3 separate regions of the Homo sapiens genome follow, and all the other regions are reported to be linked to region 2. Evidence: microRNA targets listed by miRTarBase, many of them from high-throughput screens and not tested one by one. Region 2 holds a microRNA gene; each other region holds the end of a gene's coding sequence.

Region 1 (4,354 bases), not on the chromosome of region 2:
AGTACTAGAGAAAAAATTATCTTCATTTAGGTCTCTACTTAAAGTACATCTCATTAATGGGATCTTCCATGACCATTCTATCAAACCTCAGCTCCTCCCACCCCTTTTCCCTATTTTTTTTACCATTCATACTACTATTTGAAAAGTTGTATTACATACTTATTATCTGTCTCACCATGAGAGCAGGGGCTTTTTCCTGTTATACTATCCTCTAGCATCTAGAACAACTCAGATGTACCTCATAAGATTGGCTGAATAAATCACTGAATAGTTTTCAAAAAGTTAATGTAATCAAGTCAAAAATAAAAAGTGCCCAGTATGCTAGAAGTGGTGAATCTTTACCATGTCAGTCATTGGATTTAGGCCAGTTAACAATATACTAAAGAACAAACTAAATAACATGCATGTTTGACTGATCTAGGAATTCATACTACTCTAAAAAACGCAGTATCATTCTAAAAATATAACTATCCAGTTTGTCTGTTTTAGGCATTTAGGCATAGAAGGTTTAACTTTTCTGCATTCCAGTGCACAGTCATTAAGTGTTACAGCAGGTTCCTCATTCCTTGAACACAACTACTGCAACATGTTCTAACATTAATAGTTCCAACAGTGAACTCCCTGACTGTTGCAAAAGTGAGCAGTTCCCTAGGTACACCAATACTGTATGTTTGGATGGGAGTAATCTCTGGAGACTTAAGCTTGAAACCGCTCCTCCAAACCTTCCAATGATTTTGTAAGAAACTATGTAGTTTCAAAACTCCCAATATAAATCTGCATTCCTCTTCAAATAGCTAGAGTGGTTTGTTTCCTGAAAATTTGTATATGATCAAGTTTAAAAATAATATAAACTTCATAGAACTATTTCAGACTATGGGGAGGGCAAGCAAGACTAACACACAAAAACATATGTGTACACATGAGGAAAAAGGATCACTAAATACATAAAATGTTAATGTGCTCATCCCTGTAAATAGAAATATGGTAATTTAAATTTTATTTTTACTTATCTGTTTTCTCTAAATGGTTTTTGAGGAGAATACATTAAAAGCCCTTTTTTTCCCTCAAATAAACAAAATCCTCCTACAGGATAAAAATATCTAAATGCATCTTGAAATGTTAACGTTACAGGCAACTAGGAGGATTAATTGAAAGTATTAATCTGCATGTAACACCATAATATACACACAAATATGTACCATGGTCCTAACTGGGGGAGCAAGTCCCCGTGGTTGTGATTCCCGAGCAAATATTTGTCTGTTTTAGTGGCACAGTCGAGCTGACTGCTGTTCGGAAAAGGGCAAGCTATCTTGGGAACTAAACATATAAGGTGAGAGTAGCCAGTGCCGCAGCTGTTGGCAAGGTTTTTGTTGATAATAACAGAAGTACATCCCTTAGAATTGGCTATTTTGAAGGCTTAAAATAGAATGGAAGCGACTTCACCTACCCAATAATTAAATAAAATTTTAGAAAAGACTAAATATGAAATGAGCAAGATTTTCTATAAAATATCATTTAAAAAAAACTTTCCAAATAGCATTTATCTATTTATGGGTTGCTCTTTATTCTTCCATTTTCTCTACCCTCTAGCTTCATGACTTAATTTCAAACCAGCAACATATAGCACCCAGACAAGTCACACTTCTTTATTCACAGACAGAAGTAATCATGAAGTATCACAAGGGATTTGCAATCACCAAAGAAGATGCAGATAAAATAAACCACTCTTAAGCTATGGAAATTCCTATTAAGGAATTTTATTAGATTAATAAGAAAAATCCTTATACCTATTAATATAGTCATTTTACAAGGATATTTTTCAAATGTCATTTGATATTACTTTTGTTAACACTTTCAATGACAATTCTGATGAGCTCTAATTTTGGATCTTTTATGGTTACTGCTTTCTGTGACCTAAGAAACCTTTGGCTAACCCCCCAAGTCACAAAAATATCATCTGTTTTCAGTTAAAAAGCTTCATACTTTTAAAATATTACATTTAGGTCTATGATTCATCTCAAAGTCATTTTTGTGAGGTAGGGGGTCATTGTTCACTTTTTTCTATATGGATATTCAGCTATTCTATTCTGGCTCCATTTGTTGAAAAGACTTTCCTTCTCTGTTGAATTGTTTTGCCACCTTTGTCGAAATCAAGTGATCATATAAACGTTGATCTGTTTTCAGGCTCTCTCTTCTGTTCCATTGCTTTATTTGTCAATCCTAGTGCCAGTATCACACTGTATTGATTACTAAATACAACTTACCACAATAATCCTCACATTGCTTAACAAAATTTAAGCCTCAATAGGAAAGAATATATAAATTAAGCTGAAATAAACGAATGAGATCAAGATGAGCCTTCCTTAAAAATCTATTTTTAAAAATTATATCATGGCTTTGAAAACACTCCATAATTATTACTGTATCAACAGCAAAACATATTTACCCACAAATAACTGAGAGACTACATATTTTCCATTACCTCCAACTGAAATTATGTATGAAAAATATTTCATTCGTTTTTCTATCAATTTCCTATCAGGTTTTTCTCCATTAGTTCTAAGTCATTTAATACCACAATTACTAAGCTTAAAAACAATCCTTAAAAATGTGCTGAAGCTGGAAGATGGGTACACATTCTCCCTAATAAAATAAATTATGCTAAATTGATTTTACAATAAATAATAAAATGTTAAAGTCATGTATCAACCTCAGAAATATTCTTGATAAAGAAAAAAGTAGGTTACTTCCTTTAAAAAAGAAAGCTTTATAAAGTCTTCTTTAAAGTCTGACTTGCAAAGGAAGATTAGAAGCAGAAGATTATTACAAAGCAACTCCCAAATCAATTTTTAAAAATCAATTGTGAGCAAATTACATATGGCTCTTGAAAACTGCAGGCTGTACGAAATTTATTCAAATTGGCATAGAAAGACCCCCATCACCACTACCATCTTTTTAAAAAAGCAGATAACATGAACTGTCAGACCTCCAGTTTTTTTATACACAGCTTACAAGCTTGAAACAATATTCCATTGAGAGTAACACCAACATTCTTTAAGATTTACAATTTCTTCTTAACCTGAAATTTTGCTTTGAAGCATAATACTCAGACCTTCCTGAAACAATTCTCTAATACATAAACAAATAACCCCAAACACTTGAAGAAAATTTACTAAAATAAAATTGAGATGTTTATTACTTTTCTACTGACAGCAGTGAAAATCACTGGAAATTATACTTTTGTCCTTTTTAAATGATTTACATTAAAATCATACTTTCTCAAATAACTGGTATAGCAGATAAAATTCAGTTTTAAAATCCTCAAAACACTTAGATATCAAAGATAGAAATACTGATTTTTTTTCCGTTAATGATGAGAAGAAATAAGACAACCAGTTTAATCAAGATCTGACAATTGCAAATTTTAAGTATTTAAATTACAGATAAGGAATATCGTTTGTGCATTTTCTAGCTTCATATGGTAGTTAGACAACCAGAAAACTAACAGTTGTCAGACTCAATGTCAAATAATGGAATTTGGGAAAGCATTCTTAATATCACTTTCATTTAATATGCACTACATGCACATGATGCAGGTAGGGAAGAAGTTTATGAATCCATGCATTAAAGACAAGACAGGCTGGCACTATTGCCAAACGTGCACTGAGCCAATTAGGATGTTGCTCTAAGTTCTTTATACATAATGGTTTCCATGAAAATATGTGCAGAAGCAGAAATGTGTACATATCTGAAAACATCTTCATTTGGTTTCCTGAGCTTTCTTTGCGTTCTGTTTTTCTTTTGCCTAAAAATTAAAAATAGTATGTTACAAAATTTTAAAAGTCAGTTTTAGACTATATTAGAATAAAATGTGCCTAAGAGGGTATTCTCAAGCTGAAAGGCTTGAAATACATTGTTTATAAGACTTCTAAAGCATTATGTTTTATAACTTGAGACTTATAACAAACTTTTCCTGGACAATTACATAGTTATTCTTTGCCCTAAGAAAGGATCATGTTTGGTTTGCAGTTCTTTCCTATCTGAAGGTGAAATGAATTATTATAATTGTAATAATTTAAAAATTCCATAAAGTCAAACTCATTCATGAGTATTCCAAAACAATATATATACACATATTTGCCCATTTCCTATTCACATGAGCATAAGAAAAATCTTACATTAGTTTCTGCAAATGTGAATAAATGAGTTTAACATAACAGTTTAAGTGACTTTAACATAATGTCACTAAAGGATTATGTATCCTTGGTGTCAACAAACTTTATTTATATGACCTAAAAAAAAATGTTTTTACATACTAGTTCAATAGATCTTCATTACAATTATATAGCTTGAA
Region 2 (4,000 bases):
TGGAGTGCAGTGGCACAATCTTGGCTGACTGCAACCTCCACTTCCCGGGTTCAAGCGATTCTCCTGCCTCATCCTCCCGAGCGGATGGGACTATAGGCGTGCACCACCATACCCAGCTAAGTTTTGTATTTTTAGTACAGACAGGGTTTCACCATGTTGGCCAGGCTCGTCTTGATCTCCTGACCTTGTGATCCGCCCTCCTCGGCCTCCAAAAATGCTGGGATTACAGGTGTGAGCTACCACGCCCAGCCGAAAAATCATCTTAAATGTCTGCTCTGAACCCTTCATTTTATAAATGAGAAAATAGCAAAGTAACTTGCCTCTAGTTCTATTTCCATTACTGTTTTCTTATGTAGTTAGACAAAGTTATAGATGATATTTAAGCCATTAAGAGTCACACATGTGGAAAAAATGTAAATTCTTTTTTTTCTTTTTGAGACAGGGTCTTGCTTTGTTGCCCAGGCGAGTGCAGTGGCACAAATCACAGCTCACTGCAGCCTCAACCTCCTGGACTCAAGAGATTTGATTCTCCTGCCTAAGCCTCCTGAGTAGCTGGGACTACAGACGTGCACTACCAAACCCAGCTAATTTTTGTATTTTTTTGTAGAGACAAGGTCTCGCTATGTTACCCAGGCTGGACTTGAACTCCTGAGCTCAAACAATCTTCCCGCCTTAGCCTCTCAAAGTGCTGGAACTACAGGTGTCAGCCACCACACCCATCCAAAAATGTACATTCTTCACCTAAAATTAAAGTTTTTTTATGTTTTAAATTAATATCACTAAAGTTACAAAGCTAGTCAACTAAAAATTCCCTCTGAACACAACATGGTAGTATGGTACAGAAAAATAAAAGAATTCGGATACATGGTAGAAATTCTAGTCCTAGTATCACTAACCAGCTATGTGTCCCTAGGTTAAGTCCCTCATTTCTTTGGGTCTCTCCTATCAAATGAGTTGGAATCTAAGATCCTTTTCAATACTAAAATTCCATTATTTCTTTATACTACAAATAAACCCATTTGTCAAAAAGAAAAGTTACCTTCTTCTAATAAATTAAAAATTTACATTTAAGCCTCAGATTTTAATGTTTATAGTGAAATCTAGTTCCTTGTTTTCTTCCTAAAGATGACTTTTGCTTGTTTCTGCTACATACTTTCTGCAGCCTGCCCATTGTTCTTTCCAAACACCAAAACCCTATAAGCAATATTGCACTACTCAGAACTATTTACACAGCAGAGACAATATTGATAGGGTTCTAGGATCTGGTGATAAACAGAATTTTTTTTAGTTAGATGGCAGAAATTCACTAAGCAATTATGATAATCTAAAACTCATTAGTGTCTGATAAATCGCGCAAATTTGATTCTGATAAACATCATTCACAGCCCTTTCAGTTACAAATCAGCCTCCTGGAAGCCTTGGAAATCAGTGAGGTTATTGTTTAACTTTTTAGGGGCAATGGAATATTTAAAATAAAACTAGTGATTTTTGTAAAGCCCAAGATATTCGTATTTCAGAAACCAGTTTTCTCTAAAATCAGTAATAAAAATAAAGGGGAAAAGTTTTATACTGATCTGAAAAGTGGTATATAAAATACAAAATTAGGTGAAAAAAGTCTATGGAAATCATCATGAAAGCACCCCAAGGGAAACCAGGTTACATTCTGCCAGTTAGATTTCTGATTTTTTCCTCCTATTTTGGAATATTTGCATAATAATTACTGGTTGAGCATCCCTAATCTGAAAATTCAAAATCTGAAATGGTCCAATGAATTTTGGATTTTGGAGCATTTCAGATTTTGGAATTTTGGATTAGGGATGCTCAACCAGTTGTTTTGTTTGTTTGTTATTTTTTGAGACAGCGTCTCACTCTGTTGCCTAGGCTGGAGGGCAGTGGCGCAATCTCAGCTCACTGCAACCTCTGCCTCCAGGCTCAAGCAATTCTCATGCCTCAGCCTCCCGACTAGCTGGGACTACAGGCACACGCCACAACGCCTAGTAAATTTTTTGTATTTTTGGTAGAGATGGGGTTTCACCATTTTGCCCAGACTAGTCTTGACCTCCCGAGCTCAAGTGATCTGCCCGCCTCGGCCTCCTGAAGTGCTGGGATTACAGGCATGAGCCACCGCGCCCAGCCTGTTCTAGTCTAGTTTTCAATATGACCAGTTTAAGGCTTTAAGTAAGTGGCACAAGGTATTCCATACTACTCAACTATTAGGCAGCAAGGAGAAAAGAATATATTGCGGTTGTCACAATATACTGTGTGGTCCTCAGTTTTAAAACACTTGCTTTTTACAAACAACCCCTAGATTCTCATTGCCACCGTATGCTCTCCTACAAAGGACCAGTGCCCTTAAAGCTCTAAACACATCCTCTTATGAGAGACCTTATCTCAACAGCATTAAATTACATAAAGTGAAAAAAAGTATTTCAGTCTCACCTATGGTGGGCTAGGCATAGAGAAGAGTTGGTAGACAGGTGTGTTCTGGACTTACTAAACAGGCTTAGAAATGCATTTTCCGGCTGGGCGCAGTGGCTCACGCCTGTAATCCCAGCACTTTGGGAGGCTGAGGCGGGCGGAGCACGAGGTCAGGAGATTGAGACCATCCTGGCTAACACGGTGAAACCCCGTCTCTACTAAAAATTCAAAAAATTAGCTGGGCATGGTGGTGGATGCCTATAGTTCCAGATACTCGGGAGGCTGGAGCAGGAGAATGGCATAAACCTGGGAGGCAGAGGTTGCAGAGAGCCGAGATGGCGCCACTGCACTCCAGCCTGGGCAACAGAGCAAGACTCCGTCTCAAAAAAAAAAAAAAAAAAAAAAGAAATGCATTTTCCATAGAAACATTTTAAGGGAGAATTAAGTATCTTAATGGAACTAGTTTGGCTATAATCAAAAAACCTACTTTTATTTTTATTTTTAAATTTTTTTTGTTTTTGAGATGAGTGCTCACTATGTTGCCCAGGCTAGTCTCGAAATCCTGAGCTCACGTAATCTGCCCGCCTTGGCCTCCCAAAGTGCTAGGATTACAGGTGTCAGCCACTGCACCCGGCCAGAATCTACTTTTTGTACATTTTCTTCTCTTCAATGTACATTTAGAAACACCTTTATCTACTCTCCTTTTACTTTGTTCATGGCTTTGGTTTACCATCTACTGTATTATATTTTAATCTATGTTTACATGGTAATGTCGCCACATGGTTTCAAACATCTTCCTGGCAAGAGATCGCTTTTTTGTATCCTTAGTTTTTAATATACAGCCTAATGTGCAGTGACAAAAGGGAATAGATGAAAGAACAAACATTCATTCATTTGAAAGAACAAACCACCTGGGAACCCAACTACCCTTTAAAACACGTTTTAAGGGAAATATTTCAAGTTCCCAGCAAGCTAAGGACCACTTATATCATGTCTCCACAATCAAAATTGGTTTTTGCCTTTTTCTGCTGGAGAAAGTATTGACTATTACCCATTCTCTCTTCCAAACAGAACAAATGCATGACTATGCTTGTCCAAAACAGATAAGCAGTAACATGCCCTAACACCAGGTCACAGACATGTTATTTCAGGCAATTGGCAACCAGAGGGGATAAAAGTGAGCAAGGGCTTCAGGTTCATCAGTTCCCAATCTGCAAGCTTTTTTTTTTTTTTGAGATGAAGTCTCGCTCTTGTCCCCCAGGCTGAAGTGCAATGGCACGATCTCAGCTCACTGGGTTCAAGCCTCCTGGGTTCAAGCGATTCTCCTGCCTCAGCCTCCCGAGTAGCTGGGATTACAGACACCTGCCACCATGCCTGGCTAATTTTTGTATTTTTAGTAGAGACGGGGTTTCACCATGTTGGCCAGGCTGGTCTCGAACTCCTGACCTCAGGTGATCCGCCTGCCTCAGCCTCCCAAAGTGCTGGGATTACAGGTGTGAGCCACTGCGCCCGGCCCAATCTGCAGGCTTTTATGGAACAATTGCTAGGATATATACATAAGCCCCTGCCTCTAAAAGGCTAG
Region 3 (4,356 bases), not on the chromosome of region 2:
TTTCTCTGCTCAGACCTTATAGGGAAACTACTGGATGATTTTATTAGGCTGACAGGGGTTGGGGGAATAATGGGGTGAAGCACATTGCAGAGATTTCGGAAGCCTCTCATGGAACTTCACCATCCCCTAGAGCAGCTGGTAACCCCACTCCTCATTTTCATTCAGAAGCATCAAAACCAAAGCATCACCCTCCATGCCCAAATGCCAGGATTGGAACTCTTCTGGAATCCATGGCTTTCTCTTTGGGCTGCTTGCAGCCACACAAAAGGCTGGGCCTTGACCTTGGGAGATCTTCAGCCTAACAGCTATTAGTCCTGGCATTTGGATTCCAGGGTTGAGGCTTCCCATTAGTGCCTCCCATACACCAAAGTGTTCAGCTCCTGAGTTTGATTTCAGGGGCTAGAGCAATAGCAGCTCCCACCCCTGTGGAAGACGGAAATACAGTGTACTTCATGAAAGGGAAACAAAATGGTGCTTTATTTTATTTTATTTATTTTAAAAAGGCGCTACAGTGGCAGGACGCTGCTGGGGATGGGGACACACAGTGTAAGTGGTAGATTTTCCAAGACTTCCCCTCCCTATTGTCCTCCGAGTTCCTCTCTTCCTGGTCCTATCAGTAGCATAGGATTCAACAAAAGCCTTCATGAATGCCTCTTTATTTCTGAAAAGGAACTTCTACCCCTCCCTTTCCCATTTCCAGACTTGAAATCCTTCATCAGCTATCTCACTTCCATGTTGAAACCAGGACCACTGATTGTAAGTCTGAAAATCTGGGTGTCCTACCCCATAACCAGGCCAAGATATCTGCCCCCAATGCTAAAGTCTCTGAATATTTCCTTTCTGTACATTCAATATATTTGGGCATATATACATCTATATACATCTTTCTATATATATATTATCTCTGTTTCTTTCTTCTTAGATAAACCTTTCATATATGTCATATCCTAATTTCCCAAGCCTCCCCACTTCTTGTTTGCGAGCCTAAGCAAGACTCAAGAGTTTCATTGATTTCACTAGGTCCCTCAGCATCATTTCTTTCTCATCTTCTCACCCCAGGTATCTTCCCCCATCAGTTGTTTCGCCCGTCTTCTGAAATCTCCCCTTTTTACACCTGTGCCTACCGAAATCTCCCCTTTTTACAACTGTGCCTACTACTCTGCTGATATTCCAAGTCCACAGTTGGTATGGGGGCCCATTTCTCACCAGACCTGGCTGCTTCTAAAGCTCGGCCTATTGCCTAAAAGAGGATTTCAGGTCAGAGGAGACAGACTATAGTCTAAAGAACCATTTAGAGTTAAGGTAGGGGGTAGTTGTTCCCTGTAGGGGGCTTGTGGGAGAAGATGCCAGATCGCATTAATAGGACAGTGTGATTTAAAGTGCAACTTAAAGCAAAGCCTGGGTAATAATGGAGGAGATTCCAAAAGGGTAAGTCAGAAAATGTTTTCTTCTCACTGTTTCATCCAAGAGTCTAGAGGCTTGAGTCTGGGGGCTTAGAATAGACAGCAGGGGAATGGGAAGAAAGCATAGCATGGCCAAATAAACCAGATGGAGGTTAACTTGGCAATGGATAGGAAGGTATAGACACACACACACACACACACACACACACACACACACACACACACACACACAGCAGTACATCTTGTCCCTACACACTGAAAGAAATAAGGTAAGTCTAATGTTGAATAAAGTTGAGAACGCAGAAGCTGGCTCTTGGCCTTCTGTTCTCTGTTTCAGATTTTTCAAGTTTTTGTGGTTCTTGTTTTTATGCCAACTAGAAGGTAATGGTGGGGTTTACTGTAGATGGACACCGAAGGGTCTTTGTTTTCAAGATATAGTTAGTTGAGTTCGAGGAGAGATCAATATAACAAGACCTTGTGCAATTATAGTTGGTGGTGATCATGGGTCTAGCCTCAAAATTTTGTGTTTCTCTGCAAGGCTCTGTACATAGATGCATGTATATATTCTGTAGCTTGTAACAATTGGCTGAGACCACCTTAAACTGCAACTTGACTTATAGTGGGACTATGCAGTACCACTATGTGAGGCTTCCTTGGTACCAAAGTGAGACCAGAAAGCACTCTAGGGATTTGGGGCTTTGGATAAAGCTCTGGTGCCTATATGCCCTTCCCTGACCCTTACCACAGACCCCACCAGGGAACAAGGAATAGGCTGAGTTTGATCTCTTAAAGTCTACTTTTTAACTTGTCTGAAAATGGCCTCATGGCAGAGGAGAGTAGAGATGACACTGATTTCTTCATTTTATACCAAGTCTCAGGAATGGCTGAGGGAAGCCATGGTTATTTGATCAGAAGGTATAATTTCATTTCCTTCCAGCATTGCCTAATGAAATAGCTGGCACTTTTCAGAAGGGCACTGGGAGGTGTAACTGAGAATAGTGGCTGCCAGCCACAGAGTTCTGCTCCTGCCCAAACCTTAACAAAGCATCACCAATTCTCAGAGGCTCTGTACAGCAGTTTGGAAATCTGAGAATTTACCCATCCCTCATGGTGGGATTGTGTTAACTTTCTGGGGAATCTGTGCCCTGTGAATCTAGTTTTACTTGAGCATCCGTGTTAAGAGAGGAAGGCCCTTGCATTTTCCCTCCCTTCTCCCAAAGAGTTGGGGTTAAGGAAGAAGGATCTAGGCTGAGCAGGAAAGGAAGAAGAGAAGCCAGGTACAGTGTAATCTGGAATATTATTTTCAGACCTTTCCATGGGGCCTGGGTACTGGACTCTTTTCAAAGGAACATATTGGCTTGGGTCCTTCCATTCACAGGACACAGGGAAACAGATCTTCTCTGGGCTGCCTGGAAGATAGGTTTAAAGGTTTAGATAACAACTTGTGTTAGTCACTCCAAATTGAAGAGTTCAGAATCCAGGATAGATATGGGTGGTTATATGTTTATGTTTCTTGGGCCAACTCCAATTCTCTGAGAACAGAGGCTATGAGGGAACTGGGTATCCTGAGAGTGTTCACTTGAGAAACTACAGAGGGAAAACAGTGGCGACCATGGTTCTAGCTTATGGTCAGAAGTCACCAGCAGAAATCAAGCTTCACAGTGGCAAACCCTGGCTTCTTTCAACAGAGATTGGTAGAAACCCTAGGATATGTTGATATCAGATTCCTGTATTTCTGAAAGCACAGACCACAAAGTGACCATCAGAGAGAGTCTTGCCTTTGGGAACTTGCTAGATGGAAAGGTAACAGAGGGAGCTCCAGCCTCAAGTCACCAAACTTCATGGTGGTGGTGGGAGGTAGGGGGCAGTCTATCCTTCCAACCACATGGTCCTCCTAATGTGAGTATCCAAGCATGGCTGAGGCCTTCTAAGCCACTTCAGCCTAATCCCACTCTTTCCCCCATCCTGGCTTAAGGGAGGTATGTGTATTGGGGCAGAAGCTGGGGAAGTGGAAAGGGGACAGTGGGAGGCGAACCTGGACTCCAGTTGGCCTAAGCTACCAACAGGCCACTGGGTTAAAGAAGAGGGAGTGGAGGATGGGTGCTTCGGGGGATCTCCAGTAAACCCGGGTAGTATTCCTTACCAGGGCATTGGAAGAGAGGAAAAGAGACCAGAGGAATGGGGGAGTGGGAACAGGTCATCAGACATTGCTGATGCGCACACTAAGGGCACTGCCCTCCTTCTCAGCTTGCTCCCTTAATGACTCCTCCAACTTGAGCTTTTCAGGGTCTCCGTAGCGTACAGTGCTGTCACGGAGGCCACTAGGAGAGGCCACTTTCACAACTTGGTCAAAAAGGCTAAAGTCAGCTATGTATTTACCACTGGCTGACAGTGAGATGGCAGGTGTGAACTCGTAGCCCCAAAGGATCTCCTCTGGCAGGTAGGAAGTGCGCACCTGACAGGTGGCACTGGTGGACTCCACTGTCCCACTTAGGATCAGCACCAGCTCAAAGTCACCCTCACCACTGCGAAGAGGGAGATCTTTCAAGGGACTGGTCTCATCTACCACATGATAGAAGGTAAGGGGTAGAATAAGGAAGGGGCTGTCAGAGGCTGTGTCTACTTGGAAAGTCACATTGACCTGGTTGAGCCGGATGTTCTCCCCTTCCTTGGTTTGGTGGGTCTGAAGCAGTTTTCCTGTCACCTGGCAGCCAATGAGGAGGCTTTTGCGCATATTGGCAACTCGGATCATGAGGCAGGGCTTGCCATTGTGGGAGGCCACAACTGCATGCTGGCTGAAACGAATGGTCTCAGCCCGCTTCTTGGGCCGGGCAATCTTCGCCAGGAAGGTACCTGTGATGAAGATTTCCAGGATGGTGGTGAGCACCAGCTGGGCAATAAGAAGCACAATGGCCAGTGGACATTCCTCACTGATGTAGCGGAAGCCATAGCC

What was found. The annotated mature microRNA hsa-miR-454-5p reads ACCCUAUCAAUAUUGUCUCUGC and lies in region 2 at 1,233-1,254, opposite strand. An mRNA with a match to its seed (bases 2 to 7 or 8) in the 3' UTR can be bound and repressed. Matches are read on the target gene's strand: a 7mer-m8 pairs with bases 2 to 8, a 7mer-A1 pairs with bases 2 to 7 and ends in A, and an 8mer does both.
Region 1: miRTarBase lists UCHL5 as a target of hsa-miR-454-5p. Seed matches in the 3' UTR shown: 7mer-A1 at 108-114.
Region 3: miRTarBase lists KCNJ10 as a target of hsa-miR-454-5p. Seed matches in the 3' UTR shown: 7mer-A1 at 576-582.

What each region holds. Positions count from the first base shown.
Region 1 is chr1:193,012,591-193,016,944 of GRCh38, forward strand. UCHL5 (ubiquitin C-terminal hydrolase L5) reads right to left here. Exons shown (of 11, transcript NM_001199261.3): 11 at 1-3,805. The coding sequence ends at 3,761. Among named protein-coding and RNA genes, the nearest start is that of UCHL5, 45 kb to the right of the region's middle.
Region 2 is chr17:59,136,596-59,140,595 of GRCh38, forward strand. It overlaps MIR454 (microRNA 454), which reads right to left and starts at 1,277; the gene lies at 1,163-1,277. The region is part of intron 1 of SKA2 (spindle and kinetochore associated complex subunit 2); the gene reads right to left.
Region 3 is chr1:160,037,790-160,042,145 of GRCh38, forward strand. It overlaps KCNJ10 (potassium inwardly rectifying channel subfamily J member 10), which reads right to left. Exons shown (of 2, transcript NM_002241.5): 2 at 1-4,356. The coding sequence ends at 3,604. Among named protein-coding and RNA genes, the nearest start is that of PIGM, 8.0 kb to the left of the region's middle.